2 separate regions of the Homo sapiens genome follow, and region 2 is linked to region 1. The links come from fine-mapping of genetic effects on gene expression. Tissue or cell type: whole blood. Region 1 holds a variant in brackets; the other region holds the start of a gene. All regions are shown on one strand. Distances are from middle to middle.

The links. PIP is the estimated chance that this variant, and not a neighbour inherited with it, causes the effect.
Region 2: EVL starts here. The variant in region 1 is fine-mapped to the expression of EVL in whole blood (INTERVAL, PIP 0.96).

The regions. Positions count from the first base shown.
Region 1 is chr14:99,971,265-99,979,367 of GRCh38, forward strand. It overlaps a transcript of EVL not described here and the pseudogene RPS2P3. Among named protein-coding and RNA genes, the nearest start is that of EVL, 90 kb to the right of the region's middle. RefSeq lists silencers at 60-109, 250-329. The variant TTTTATTTATTTA/T (reference allele first, on the strand shown) is at 4,916.
Region 2 is chr14:100,062,212-100,070,314 of GRCh38, forward strand. It overlaps EVL (Enah/Vasp-like), which reads left to right and starts at 3,211. Exons shown (of 14, transcript NM_016337.3): 1 at 3,211-3,300. The coding sequence starts at 3,290. LOC124903379 (a long non-coding RNA gene) reads right to left here and starts at 1,833. Exons shown (of 2, transcript XR_007064329.1): 1 at 919-1,833. RefSeq lists enhancers at 2,685-2,734, 3,085-3,174, 3,225-3,304, 3,355-3,494, 3,875-3,954 and 6 more.

The sequences.
Region 1 (8,103 bases):
AGGCGGGGACTGGAGGAGCGTCCGCGCCGGGAGGGAGCGCACCGCGCCACGTGCCCGCCCGGCGCCCCGCCCCCACCCCGGCCACGCCCCTCGCGCTTCCCTCAAAGCCCCGCCCCTCAGCCCCGCCACTCTCGTCCGCCCCGCCCCTCGCAGCCTCAAGCTCAGCGCTCCCGGAGGCGCGGACGGTGGGGCCCCGCGCCTTTTGTGTCGGGCTTTGACCGCCGCGCGCGCTCATTCACCTCAGCGGCCGCGGGCGGAGGGGCGCACGCGCGCGCAGTCCCCTCGGAGGGCGGTGGGGCGAACAGCAACGCGCGTACCCTAGCTCTTGGCTGCTGTGCTGAGACTAGCCCGCGCGCCCGCGCGCCTCTCCCTCGAGGACTCGGAGCCGCCCGCGCACTCGCCAGGGGCCGCCGCCCCGAGTCTCAGGCGGACGCGCACGCGTTCCCGCCGCCCGGACCCCAGCCGGCTCGCCCCCCGCCCCCCCATCCCCCGGCGGCGGCCCCCAGGCACGCGCCCGCGCACACGCCGGCCCGGGCACGCGCCCGCCAAGATGGCAGGGGCCGGGGCCCAGCTGTCAGTCGCCGCCGCCGCGGCCCTTCCCCGCAGCTAGCGGCCCCGACGCCCACCCGGAGAAGATGAGCCCCCGCTGCCCCCCGCAGCCCAGTCAGACGCGGAGCCGCCGCGCCCGGGGCCGGCTCCCCCGCTAGCGCCCGCGTCCCGCGCCCCGCCGCCGCCGCCGCCGCCGCCGGGTCGCCCCTGGCCCGGCGCGCCCGTCCCCGGCAGCGACAATGAGGTGAGTCGGGGCCGGCGCCTCGTGGGAGGTGGCAGCGGCCAGCGTCGGAGGGGCTGGGCTGGGGGCCCGCGGTGCCCCCGAGGGCGGGAGGGGGGCTCCACGGGCGCGGGGGCTTCCAGAGAACCGCGGGGGCTCTGCAGAGATTCGGGGGCATTCAGAGCGCGGGAATGGCTTCGCGAGAGCCGTGGGGGCGTCTGGAGAGCCGGGAGGGTCTGCAGGGCTTGTGGGGGGCAGTGTTCTGCAAGGGGCAGGCGGCGCTGGCTTTGGCTGCTTGTGGGGTCCTCTTAGGCTCCGGGGGGCCTGCGGCGGCCTGGGAGGCAGACCCCCGCGGGCAGGTGTGGCCGTGTCCCGACCGCGCGAGGACCGAAGTTGGCGGAAGCCCCTGTGCGGTGCCTTCCAGCCCGGAGGAGGCTGGCCTGAAGCCCCCAGGCGTTGCCGAAGCCTCCCCCTGCCAGCGCCCAGAGCCGCGTTTGGGCTTTTACAGGTGTAGTTTCCCCTCGACTTGGAGCCCGTCAACCCCTTCGTCTCCTAATTCTCAACCCCCCTTTTTTTTCTTCTTGCACGCCAGTAAAGTGCAAGGCCCCCAAATGTACCGCTCGTTGATGTATCACCCAGCTCGGGAGCCTGCTGATTATCAGGCCAAGAAATAAAACCTTGCTTCTGCCAGAAGCCCGGTGCCCTCTCCCAGTCGCTAAACCCTCCCTTCCTCTCCAGATCCTGTCGTGACTTTTTTGGGGTAATCACTTTTTTTTTTTCCATTTGTAATTTTGCTTTCTGAACACGTATCTCGTAAAAACTGTAGTTTGTAACTATAGTTTCGTTTTGCCTGTTTTGTATTATTTATGACAATGAAATAATACAGTATTCTTTTGTGTCTGGTGTTTTTCAAGATGTTTTCGAGATCCATTCCGTTGTAATCGTTATTTGTTCATTTTTATTGGTCTATAGTATTCTGTTGTAAGAATATACCACAGTGTACGCATTCTACTGTTACTAGACATTTTAGTTGTTTCTAGCTTTGTTGGCTATTAATAATGCTGTTATGGATATTGTTGTGTATCTCCTGGTGCATTCATTTCGATTGGGTAGATATCTAGTAGAATTTTTAGGTCAAAAGATAAGCATATCTTTAGCATTAGCGGTAAACACCAAGTTGCCAAAGTGGTTCTACGAGCTGACATTCTTACCAAAAAATGTGTGAGAGTTCTTGTTGCTTCACCTCCTTCTCAACACTTGGTATTGTCAGTCTTAAATTTTAACCATTCTGGTGATTATGAAATGATATCCCATTGTGGTTTTAATCTGCAGTTTCCTGTTGACTGATGAGGCTGAACATCTTTTTATTTTTATTTGGTATAGTTTTCTGGAGTGCCTGTTCAGATATCTTGCCCACATTTCTCTTGGGTTTTTGTTTGTTTGTTTTGAGACGGAGTCTCGCTCTGTTGCCCAGGCTGGAGTGCAGTGGTGCGATCTCGGCTCACTGCAACCTCTGCCTCCTGGGTTCAAGCGATTCTGCTGTCTCAGCTTCCCGAGTAGCTGGGATTACAGGTACGTACCACCACACCTGGCTGATTTTTGTATTTTTAGTAGAGACGGGGTTTCACCATGTTGGCCAGGCGGGTCTCGAACTCCTGACCTCAGGTGATCAACCCGCCTTGGCCTCCCAAACTGCTGGGATTACAGGCATGAGCCACCGAAAATAGTTTCCTGTAAAATATTAGAAAGCTTACATGTGTTTTCCCTTTTACATTAAGATATATGGTTCACCAGAAATTCATTTTTGTGTGACATAATGTGAAAAAGGGGTTAAATTTTATTTTTACTTAACACCATTTTTTTCAGCACCATTTATTAAAAAGATAATCTTTTCCCCATAACTCTGTTGTACCACCTTTGTCATCTTCCAGTCTTCGCTTTGGAGTTATTTTCTTTCTGCCTGAAGAATACTCTTCAGTATTCTTTAGTGCAGGTCTGGCAACAAATTCTTAGTGTTTGTCGAAAAACATCATTATTTATTCTTCATTGTTTTCTTTTTTGTAAGTTTTATTGAGATATAATTCACACAGTAAAATGTACCCATTTAAAGCCTATGGTTTAGTGGTTTTTAGAATATTCAGTTATACAACCATTACCACATCTAATTTTAGAACTTTTTTCCATTTGTGAAGTGTCTTTTTATTAGTTTTATAGAACTCTTGGTTTGCCATTGATTTCTTTTAGCATTTTAAAAATTTAATTCACTTTATTTTTCTTGTATAAAAATCCTGCATTGTATAATAGCCATAGCTGGAGCCTGGGTTCTCTGCAGTGGAGACTCTGGTCAGTGAATTCCTAGTTTCCTAATAGGTAGACTTGGTGAATATGGTCTCCTTCCAGAGCTTGGGGATCAGATAGCTGTAGGTCTTTGAGATGACATTAACAGTGGCCTTGGTGAAGTTGCCCAGGGTGGCAGTGCAGCCCCTGACTGAGGTGTGGCAGTCCTTAATGCCAGCCATCATCAACAGCTTTTTGGGCACAGAGATCAAGATGAAACCATTGTCTCTGTGTGTAGAGATGAGGTGTACCAGCACAGAGTTGCAGTGGTCTGTCACCTTGCAAGGAATGCCGTGGGGCTTGCCAGTGTTGTCTCCTGAGATGCCTCTCTGCACCGGGACAGTGGAGAGCTTGACAAAGATGATGACTCCTTGGATGGTAGTAGGTACCGTCTTGGAGCATTTAACACCCAGACCGACATGGATATTTTAGTCCCCAATGGCAACAAGTGCCTTGAATCTGGACCACTGGCCAGTGCAAGTCTCCATTTTTACTGGCATAATCTTAAACTCATTCGTGAGGGTTGCCCCCAGGAAAAAGTCGATGATCTCAGCCTCCTTGATGGGCAGGGAGAGGAGATAGAGCTTCAGGGACTTAATCTTCATGTCCTTGACTATGCTGCCCAGTTTGATGATGGGGACCTACTCCTTGGCCTTGGCCTTGGCCTTGGCCTTGCCACCACCAGCTCCGTGGCCCCAGCCTTAGCCCTGGATGCCACTGCTGTGGCTTCCCATTTTGGGGCCTCTAGGCCCTCCCACTGCACTGGTCTCATTCGCCATTTGGTGTTTTCTTGGAGAACTCTTTTAGCATTTTAAAGCTATTTCATTATCTATGACTTAGTTTCTGTTGAGAAGTCACTTGTCAGTCTCTTGTTCCTTTGAAAGTAGTCTTTTTCTCTGGCTGTTTTTAAAGTTCTGTCTTTGGTTTTCAGCAATTTTTCTATACTGTCCCTAGTATGGATTTCTTTTTATTTATAATTAGAGTTTTTAGGGATTCTTGAATTTGTGGCTTCATGTCTTCCATTGGTTTTGGAAATCATCAGCCATAAGTACTTCAGTTATTTCTTCTGCCCCATTTTCTCTTACCTTTCCTTCTAGGGCTACAGTGATATATGTGAGACCAGCAGTTCACAACTTTTTTGGCACCAGGGACTGGTTTTATGGAAGAAAATTTTTCCTTGGGGGGTTAGGGGGGTAGTTTCCAGATAAAACTGTTCCACCTCAGATCATCAGGGATTAGCTTCTCATAAGGAGTGCACAATCTGGATCCCTTGCGTGCACAGTTCACAATAGGGTTCACGCTTCTATGAGAATCTAATACTTCAGCTCATCTGACAGGAGGCAGACTGCAGGCAGTAATGCTCACTCATCTGCCACTCACCTCCTGCTGTGTGGCCTGGTTCCTGACAGGCCATGGACCGATACTAGTTCATGTCCAGGGGTTGAGGACCCCCATGTTATTCCATTTCACTATATCTTCTATGTCTCTTAACTGTTTCTCTGCATTTTACATGTTTCTCTCTCTCTTCTTTATTCTGGTTATCTCCTTCTCACTGTCTGTCTCTCTCCATCACCCCTCCTCTGCTGTATATAATCTGCTATTAAAACCACCCATTGAGTTTTTAATTTCAGGGTTTTTAAAAATTATTTTTAAATTTCTTTTTTGTTTTTTATTTTTATTATTTTTCAGAGTCTCATTCCTTTGCTCAGGCTAGAGTGCAGTGGCTCAGTCATGACTCACTACAGCCTTAAACTCCCACCTTAGCCTCCCAAGTAGCTGCAGCTACAGGCACACGCCCCCATGGCCAGC[TTTTATTTATTTA/T]TTTATTTATTTATTTATTTATTTATTTATTTAAGTGACAGGGTCTTGCTGTGTTGCCCAGGCTGGTCTCAAACTCTTGGCCTCCAGTGATACTCCTGCCTCAGCCTCCCAAAGTGCTAGGATTACAGGCATGAGCCATTGTGCCCAGCTGATTTTTATATTTCTATTTGTTTCTGTTTTATACTTCCAAGCTATCTGCCAAAATTATCAGTCTTGTCTTTTACCTCCTTTAACATAGTATGTGTAATTATCTTAAAGTCCATGTTCAATTATGGCAATCTGTTAGTTGTTTCCAGTGTCTGTTTCTGTTGATTTTCATTCATATTGTCTTGTCTCCTTATGTGCCTAGTGTTTTTTTTAATGTGTGGTAAACATCATATTTGCAAAATTATTTGTAGGAATAATTTGAGGCCTAAGATGATGCTTTTTTCTTCCAGAGATAATTAATATCTGCTGTTATAAGGCACATGGGAGCACTTACAATTGGCGTTGCCTTCAGTACAGTTTCAGGGATTGAAATATCTCTAAGCTGAGCTGCAGTTCTTGTGAAGACAAACCTGTTCTGTTCACTTTTCCTCCTAATGTTCTCTTCTTCACCAGCACCTTTACTCTCCACCCCAGCGCCAATCTTTTAGCATTCCCTTCAGAATTGATAAACACCCTTCAGGAAAATTAGCCTCAAACACTGAGCTCACTTTCTCAGGCTCTGACTTGCTTTCCTCCCCCGTGCCTCCAAGCAGGTATTTCTTACATTTTTCCCAGCGTTTCTAGTTCTTTTTAGATGGAGGATTGTTCTGATTGTTCTGATTAGTCCACAGTTACTATCAGTAAAAGTCCCTGATTTTTGCATTTTCAGGAACAGTTTGAGTCAATATTCAATTCTGGAGATTCATGCTACCAGGTTATGGAAGCTGTAGAGAACAGTGACACCTATTTTCTTGTGTTCTGTCCTAATTGTATTAGATTATCTCTGCCAGTTTGTGAAATGCTTTTGGAATCAAGATAACTTTAAGAATAAGTCTTTAACTCCTCTTAATAAATAATTAATTGAAAAAAATAGCAGTTTAGCTCAGGTCATTAAAACAAAAGATTTGGGGGGCAGGTACTTTTATCTCCTTTCCATGGTTCCTTTCTCCTGTCTTGATTTCCTTATTTATTTGATAAAAATTATGCTCTAACCAGTCCTCCTGAATAGAAATTTAATTTATTTTTTATTTTTATTTTTTAGATGGAGTCTCACTCTGTTGCCTGGGCTGGAGCACAGTGGTGCGATCTCAGCTCACTGCAACCTCCATCTCCCAGGTTCAAGTGATTCTCCTGCCTCAGCCTCCCGAGTAGCTGGGATTACAGACATCCGCCACTATGTGCGGCTAATACATCGTATTTTCATCCGCCACTACGCGCGGCTAATATTTTGTATTTTTAGTAGAGACGGGGTTTCCCTGTGTTGGCCAGGCTGGTCTCAGACTCCTGACCTCGTGATTCGCCCACCTCGGCCCCCCAAAGTGCTGGGATTATAGGCATGAGCCACCGTGCCTGGCCAGAACATTTAATTTTTGAGTCTACAGTAGCATAAGAGCATTCTCAGATCTCATTCTTTGGGATCTAAAAAAGTCATGGATGGCTGGGCACGGTGGTTCATGCCTGTAATGTCAGCACTTTGGGAGGCCAAGGCAGGCAGATCACCTGAGGTCAGGAGTTTGAGACCAGCCTGGCCAGCATGGCAAAACCCCCATCTCTACTAAAAATACAACAGTTAGCCAGGCGTGCTGGTGGGCGACTGTAATCCCAGCTACTCAGGAGGCTGAGGCAGGAGAATCACTTGAACTCGGAAGGCAGAGGTTACAGTAAGCTGAGATCTTGCCATTGTACTCCATCTTGGGTGACAGAGCGAGACTCTGTCTCAAAAAAAAAAAAAAAAAGTCAGCAGGGTGCGGTGGCTCACGCCTGTAATCCCAGCACTTTGGGAGGCCGAGGCGGGTGGATCACGAGGTCAGGAGATCGAGACCATCCTGGCTAACACGGTGAAACCCCGTCTCTACTAAAAAAAAATACAAAAAATTAGCCGGGCATGGTGGCGGGTGCCTGTAGTCCCAGCTACTCCGGAGGCTGAGGCAGGAGAATGGCGCGAACCCGGGAGGCGGAGCTTGCAGTGAGCCGAGATCGCGCCACTGCACTCCAGCCTGGGCGACAGAGCGAGACTCTGTCTCAAAAAAAAAAAAAGGCATGGATGTAGAAATAAAAGTTCTTAAGTGGTTTTTCCAGAATGAAGAGCCATTTTTCTTTTCTTTTTTTTAAGTCAGTCATTTTTTACACAGATTTTTAAAATTGCTACAGTTTAACCTGGTTCTCCATTGCAGACTGCTTATAGTTGAATACCTATACGTGTATATTTACCTGTACCTGAAGTACTTGGCTTTAGTACATGGATTTAAATGAATCCAGGGGGACTTTTCATTACCTTTGTTGTCAGTTGATTTGATTTGATTATTTATAAGCAATTTGGTTTACCTATGATAACACTTTCCTTTTTGTTCAGTCCTAAATTTTTAAAATGAAAGTAACGTATTATTTCTCTTGATAGATACTGTCATGAGAGTACGTAGATATGACCTATTGCTAAAAGTCTAGAATGTAATATCCAAACTGTGTTCCTTTTGGAGCATCTCAGGAAGCCATAACGCTGGAGATGCATTCTAACAAGTGAGCTAAACACTCGAGGCACATGTCCACTTATTTTAGCAAAAAAGTACTATTGAATCGACTTATTCAAATAAAGAAGTCTAAGTCTCAGTTTTTCTTTATTTTCTAGACTACTGCCTGAATTCTTGTTTCTCTTTTTCTAACAGACTCTATGTATTTTCATATTTTCATTGAGAAATCGTTTTTTGAAGGCTTACTGTTGTCTGGTACTGGATTAGATGGGGTAAGGAGGTGTAAGGAACTAGACACTCCCATCCCCCACTCTCACCGCCCATACACAAATAATCCCCATACCTAAAAGATTTACAGAAACTTACTAAATCTTTCTGCAGTTGCTAAAAAAAAAACAACAACAAAAAAACCCACCCACATATACACAATATGCAATCTATTTCTGCTTATATATTCGAGTCATTTATCTATTGGGAACATTCTCTTCTGTGAACATTTTCCCTATCTGCTTTTTTTAAAGA
Region 2 (8,103 bases), 91 kb after region 1:
ATATATATATGTATATATATATATATGACTGTCCAAAACAAAAATATGTAACATTGTATTTTGAGTAACATATGACAGCTACACCATAAAGGATGGGAATGGAGAATGAAATTATGCAATTATGAAGTTCTTAACATTTTACTGAAGTGGTACAATATTAACTCTAAGTGTACCCTACAAAGTTAAGAATGTATATTGTAATCCCTAGAAAGACCTCTAAAAAAAAAAGAGGTATAGCTAAAAAGTCAATAGAGAAATTCAAATGGAATTCTGAAAAGTATTTAGTTTACCCACAAGAATACAGGAAACGAAGAACAGAGGAACCAGAAACAGATGAGACAAACAGAAAACAAATAGCAAAGTAGTAGACCTGTATCCATCTACATCAATAAACTAAATGTAAATAGACTAAATACCCCAATTAAAAGATAGAAATTGTCAGACTGGGTGAAAATGCAAGACTCAGTCATACACTACCTATAGGACATACTTTAAATACAAAGATACAAATCGACTGAAAGTGAAAGGATGGGTAGTAGGCAGAGTAATGCCATCACCCCGCCGTAATCCCTAGAACCTGTGACTGTGTGACTTTACATGGGATGGGCATGGTGACTCATGCCTGTAATCCTAGCACTTTGGGGGCCAAGGCAGGAGGATCACTTGAGGCCAGGAGTTTGAGATCAGCCTCGGAAACATAGCAAGACCCCATCTCTATTTAAAAAACTGTTTTCAAATTAGCCAGGCATGATGGTGTGTGCCTATAGTCCTAACTACTCAGGAAGCTGAGGTAAGGAGGATCACTTGAGCCAGGAGTTTGAGGCTGCAGTGAACTATGATCACACCACTGCATTTCAGCCTGGGTGACAGCAAGAGACCCTGCCTCTAAAAAAGTAAATAAATAAAATGTTACCTTACATGGCAAAAAGGACTCTGCAGACGTGATTAAAGTTGTGGACCTTGAGATGGAGCGGTTATCTTGGATTATCCATTGGGTCCAGTCTAATCACACGAGTCCTTAAAAGTAGAGAACCTGTCCACACCGCGGTCAGAAAGAGATGTCACTGTGGAAGAAGGGTCGGAGCACTGCTGCGTGCTTTGAAAGTGGACAGAGGGGCTATGAGAAAGCAATGCAGTCAGTGTCCAGAAGCTGAGAGAGGTGAGCAAGAGAGACCTATGTGGAACTTCTGATGATGTTGGGCTTCTGACCTCCTATCATCTTACAAAACTCTAAGATAATAAGTGTGTGTTGTTATAAGCCACTCAGTTTGTGGTAATTTGTTACAGCAGCCGCAGAAAACCAATGCTGCATGGAAAAATGTACCTAACAAGAGCTTCAAGAAATAGTGACAGAATTAAAGAGGGAAATCCACAGTCACAGTTGAAGATTTCAGGACCTTTCCCTCAGCAGTTGATAGAATAATTAGACAAAAACAAACAACAGCAACAAAAAGTAACAAGGACGTAGACGTTCTGAACAATACTATTAACCACCATGACCTAATTGACATTCTAGAACACTGCACCCGACCAGTTTCAGAATACACATTCTTTCCTTGTGCATATGCTACATCCGCCAAGGTAGACTGCATGCTGGGCCATAACGCACATTTTGATAAATGTGAAAGGATTGAGATCATACCAGGAAAAACAAAGGAAGAAGTCACACCAAATATGTTCTCTGGCCCCAGTAGAATTAAATTGGAAATAGGTAGCAACAGATATAGGAAAACACCAAATATTTCAAAATTTAACGAAGCACTTATCAATAATCCATGGATAAAAGAAGAAATCACTAGAGAAAATTAAAAATATTTTGAACCAAAAGAAAAAAGAAAACTGCAATACATCCAAACTGTGGTTTGCAACTAAAACAGTGCTTAAAGGGAAATGTATATCATTAAAAGCCTTTTAAAATGCATTTTTAGCATTCAAAGTGCATTCATCTCTCCAATTAGAACTGATACTTCTTTTGTACTGTACTCTGTACAGCTGTTTTTCACTATATCAATAATATTTTAATGGATCTATTAAATATTTGCTAACATTATCAACCTCTTCTTTTCTAAACCATAAAAGTCCTTTAAGGACAAGTACAGTCGTTCTCAATTTTTTGTCTGTGATTTCTAACACAGTGCATGCTTCTTAGTGAGTTCTCAGTAGATTTTGAAAGAAAGATTGGACTGGATCTTACCTTCATGAGAACCCTGTGGAGATAGGCAAAATAAGTATAACCCCATTTTACAGTTGAGGCCACCCACTTAATAAACAAGTGACAAAGCCAAGTTTCCAGTATTCCTCAAGTGTTTTCCTTTCAGGCTCTAAATTGCTGACTTAAATGTCATCATTAGAGAGAGTTGTCTCCTCGGTAGAAGTACAAATTTTGTTCCAGAGTCAAATATGAAGACTTGATCAGTGGCCTGGCGCGGTGGCTCACGCCTGTAATCTCAGCACTTTGGGAGGCCAAGGCAGGCGGATCACCTGAGGTCGGGAGTTCGTGACCAGCCTGACCAACATGGAGAAACCCCGTCTCTACTAAAAATACAAAATTAGCTGGGCATGGTGGCACATGCCTATAATCCCAGCTACTCAGGAGGCTGAGGCAGGAGAATCGCTTGAACCCAGGAAGCTGTGGTGGCGGTGAGCCAAGATCGTGCCATTGCACTCCAGCCTGGGTGACAGGAGTGTGAAACTCTGTCTCAAAAAAGAAAAAAAGACTTGATCAGCTTATAGCCTTTATCATCTAGTCTTCTATTCTCTGGAGAGTCAGTGGGGACTCTTCCGAGTTCTTGTAGCCTTTTCTTAAGGCCTATAGGAAGTCATCTGTGCTGAGCCTGCACTTTCTATAACAGATGGAAAACTGAAGCTCAGACATCTTAAGTGGCATTGACTTAGACTATAGAGCTAGTTAGTGGGGGGCCAGCACCATGACCTGGCCCCTACCTCCAGCAGGCTTCACCCACCCTTGCACCCTTGCAGGAAGCACTTAGAGGCTTGAGGTTGCCAGCTGTGGGGGGTTGGGCCTGTGCAGTGCCTCTCAGCCGCCCACGCTGGTGGGGCTCTGCAGTGTTAGCTTCTTGTTTCTCTATTTTCTACCTAGGTTTCAGTTTTTCACTTGGGTTTGTTTCCCCTTTGTCTCTGGTTCAGCTTCCTTTTCCTGTTTGGTTTTAAGTAGGCTATAAAAATCAAGTTGCTGTCTTCAGAGGGTCTGTGGTCCTCTGATCAACATAGGCTGGTGGGAGTACAGGACTCGCCTCCTCAGGGTTCCCTGTGCTGCCACTTTTCAGCCATGGCCACAAGGTGAGTATTGGAACCAGTGCAGGGGACAGAGGGATGTCAAGAGGAAACCTAGAATCTTAACGGTGAATGGGCTGTAGAAATTATCTCAGGTCCCCTTAGTATACTGATCGAGAAGTCCATGACCAGAGGGCAGGGGGCTTACATGAGGTTACACAGCAGGTTAGTGACAGTCTGCTCCCTCTCTAGCCGCTGGTCTTTCCATTACACAGGCCTGTGTCTCTTGATGCCTGTGACCTTTAATGGCTTCTGAGTCAAGGACTTACTTAGAAATTAGCACCTGCCTCTCATTATAGGGAGGAGGGTCTGAGCCATCTAGGGGAATTGTTGTTTAGCTCAGAGGTACATTTGGTGAGTCCTGGCCCTTCTCTCTAGAATGACCCGAGACTGGTTGTTTTTTCTAAATATAGGCAGAGAGGGTTCTTTTTATGATAGGAACTTCATGAACTTAATAGCAAGAGTCCTGACCCTCCACTTGAGAGACTTGTGGACTTAGGCTATTGCTGTTGAGCACATGTGTGAATACCAGCCAGTCTACAAACCGCACTCCTCATTGAGATTGTTCTCTCTAAAGGTGAGATTACATTTTGGACCTGCCTCTCCCCTGCCCTACAACTCTGAAAGATTATAGATGATAGGACAGACAGACTTTTATCCTGTGGGGTTTGGGGCATTTGTTTGATTGACTCATGACAGCTTTGTTTTTTAGCATAAAGTAACAATCCCTCACTTTGAAAATTATTTCACAATTTCCAAAGTGCCATTTCGCCAGTTTTCTTATTTGAATCTTTTAGCCGTGTTAGATTGATGAGAACGCTGTCATCACTCCTGTTTCGTAGCTGAGAAAACCTCTGAAAAGTTGTGGGGTTTGTCCAAGGTCACATGGCAGGTTGGGGAAGGAATGGAACCAGGGTTTAACGAGGTTGGCCTCATCCGGTGGTTTTCGCAGCACGCTACACAGGCACAGAAGCAGCTTGCAGTGAGTTGTTAAAATTGACGTGGTGATAGGTAGAACTTGTCCAGGGCTGCTTATTTTCCAGTTGGCTTTATTTCTGATCCTGTCATTTTAGTAACTTTCCTTTAACTTTAGAGGACTCGTGAGTGGAGCTTTAGAAAACAGAATGCTTTTCATTTCAAAGGCATATCAACTTCCAAAGTCATTTTCAGTTGTAAATTACATTGTGAAAACTTCTAGCAGCTTATTCTACCGTGTCAATTACTAATTGCAGAAAATTATATCAAAAGTAAATGAGGCACAGCAATTTCTTTTTCAATTTTAAAATCGTAGAAATCCTAGAAATTTCCATCTTGAAAAGACCTTGGAGGTGATCTACAGTAGATAAGATGTTTTGGGCACCTTATTCTCCACTTCAGCCAAAATAACTCTGCTTTTATGTTTTCTATGTATTCCTTGATAATTCATTGAGAAAAAACAGTCATTGTTGGTGGTGGTGATGACTTTCAAGTCTGAAGATTACACTAATCTAGCCCAGCTCTTGAGTGCGCAGATCAGGAAATTGAGGCCCAGTGTGGAGCAGAATTTGTGTACGGGGAGCGGAGTAGTGGCTGAACCAAAGCAAAAGCCCAGGTTTTCTGGTGCGTCCCTCCCCCGTACAAGGCTGCTTGCACTCTGCCACAGGTCCCTGGCCTGGCACCATAGTGACAGTCCTGGTGGAAGCAGCGTTCGTGGAGCTGCAAGGTCAGCAGCCATAGGAGCTGTGAACTTTTCGTTTTTCCTCATGCTGACTGACACATGGGGATACCGTGGCGCCTGTGGTGGGGATACAAAGGACCTTTTAAATGTGAAAATATATCTTACCAGCTCTAGCTCTGGCTACCCACCAATCAAGAAACAGTTTCCAAGCCCTGACTGGATTAGGAGCTGGGAATTCTCTTGAGTGCATGACAACGTACAGAATGCTTTCACTGACGTTATTTAGTTATCGCAATAATCCTGAAGGTAGTGTTGTGGGGCGTTTTTGTTTTTGTATTTTTTAGAGATGAGGTCTTGCTTTATTGCCCAGGCTGGCCTCAAACTCCCGGGCTCGAGCAAGCCTCCTGCCTCAGCGGGACTACAGGTGTGGGCCACCACACCCAGCTAGCATTGTTTTTATTGTTTCTGTTTCACAGGAGAGAGTAACTTGACAAGAGACATAGCCAGTGAGTGATAGACCCAGGACTTGAACCTGTGCCTCCTGACCACAGATGCTTTGCCCTTTTGCTCTTACGCCTGAATTAGAGCTGCCTCTGTCCTCAGGGACTGGTAGGGAGTGAGGAAGACAGCACTCACAGAAATGAGGAGGCGACTGGCTGTGAGGACCCTGCAGCACAGAGAGTAATAAGCATAGACAGGAGGGGCAGTAAGAGTTGAGAAGTTGGGGACTGTCAGGGAAGACCTCAAAGAGAAAGTGGGATCTCAGGTGAACTTTGAAGAATAGGGATGATTTTTTAGAAGGCACTGGCAGGCATCACAGGCAACCAGTCACCCAGCGGCTGCTCTGGGTGCTAGGGACACAGTGGTAAACAAGACAGGCAGTCTTGTCCTCAAACTGAGGGCAGAGTCGGGAGGCAGAATATAGTCAAGAAACCATCAACAAGAGACGTGAAAACAATAGAGCAGTGTGGTAGAGAGTGACTGGGCCACGCCTTAGGGGACATGTGGGGACATGAGGCAGCCATGCTAAAATCTGAAGGTTTTGGGGTGGAAAGGGCAGCAAGTATCCTCAGCTGGGGACGAGGCCCTGAGATAGGAATGGTTTGGTGGGTTCAAGGGTCAAGAAAAATACAGAGGCTGGAGCAACATGAAGAAGGAAGAGTGAAGGCAAATAAGGGCACAGAAGGCTTTATCAGGCCCAACGGCAAAGCCTGCGAGCTGTGCTGAATTTAGCGCGTATGTCAGAATTTAGTTAGGGGAAGCCTTTGGAGGGAGGGTTTGAAGCAAAGGGAAAGACATCTCATAGAAGCTTAAGAAAATCACTCTGGGCCCTGTGTGGATAATGGCTGGCAGTGTGGCAAGAATGGAGGCAGGATGACCTCTTGGGAGGCTACCGCAGTCATCCAGGTAAGAGGTGAGGGTGGTTTGGGCCAGCAGTGGAGCAGTCAGGGTAGGCGGTGAGAAGTCACCAGATTCAGGAAGTGCCGTGGTGCTGTAGCCTCCAGGACTATCTGGTGGATCACACATGGGCGTGGGGGAAACATGAGTCAGACATGGCTTAGGTGGGTGGTGATTCCTTTCACCACGCTGGGGCAGCTGGGGTGCTAGCTGGAAGAATCTGTAGAGGTGTGGGCCTAGCAGCACAGGTTCCCAGGAAATGTGGGTTGAACAAGGCTGACCTGAGCAGGAAGTAGCTGAGGTCGCGGTGCAGCAGCAGGAAACGTGATATGGATGTGTGATATGTCTGCCACTTTTGGGGCCAGCCAGTTAATTTCGTTTCCTTCCCTGGTCTCTCTGTTGTCTTTGGTAGGCTGTGGGTTTTTCCGAAGCACGTACTATCTTCTAACGTATTATAGAACTTACTTGTTCTACTGTATACTGTCTTTACCCCTCAAGAATGTAAACTCCCAGAAGGCAGGGATTTTCGCCTATTTTGTTCAGTGGTGTATCCCCAGTGCCTAAAACATTGCCTGGCAATACACATTTATTGAACTGCTGGATTTAATTAACTACTTTGATATATGGTCCTAAAGATTCCTGTGCTACCAAAGTTGCTACTCAGTGGAGCTTCCTGGTGTGGCATGTTAGAGAAGAGACCAGAAAAACAGACATTTCACTTGCTGTCAGGTAGTGAAGGAGCTGTGGCTGCTTGGGCACAGTCATTACTGTTTATTCCACTGTGCTGCACATCTTGAAGCTGTAAAGATATAAGAAGTCTCGCACAGCCGGGGTTCAGCTTACAATCCTTCGCACCTAATTGTACGCCTTTGTGTGAGGGTTTGGAGGAGTCTCCAGGAACACCTGGTGTTTCCTTTCTCACAGGTATTTCCAGTCCTCACGGGCAAGTCAGAGAGTCCCAGAGGCAATTGAACAAGCCCTCAGAGATCACGTAGTCCGTTCACTCTCCATGGGAACCCGCACTTCCCTAGAGACCTGTAGCCAAATCATTTGGAGAGCTTCTGAAGCTTCTCTGCCTTCCTCTGTCTCAAAGAATCCCATGTGCCTCTAGTTGAGAAACATTCCTCTGGAGATTCTAGGTTATTCTCATGAGAATGTTACGATACTCAGGTGGGCTGGGGCAGAAAATGGATGAGAACTAGTGTAGTCCAATGGCTTTGCTTTGGTAACTGAACCCACAGAGGAGGAAAATAACAACAGCTCAGCTTTTCTCAGTGTTATACACCAACCATTACGCTAGTTACATGATATACATACTATTTAATTCTCATCCTTTGAGGTCTGGTATCACTATTGCCACTTTACAGATAAGAAAACAAGGGTTGGCCGGGTATGGTGGCTCACTCCTGTAATCCCAACACTTTGAGAGGCCAACGCAGGTAGATCACCTGAGCTGAGGAGTTCAAGACCAGCCTAGGCATCATAGTAAGACCTCCTCTCTTAAAAAAAAAAAAAAAAAGAAAGAAAGAAAATAAAATTAAAAAATGAAAATTAGCCAGATGTGATAGTGCATGCCTGAAGCCTATAGTCCCAACTTCTCAGGAGGCTGAGGTGGGAGGATTGCTTGAGCCCAGCAGTTCAAGCCTGCAGTGAGCTGTGATCACACTACTGCACTCCACCCTGGTGACAGAGCAAGACCCTACCTCAAAAAGAAAAGAAAACAAGGGCCTACAAAGTATCGTATTCCAGGTCAC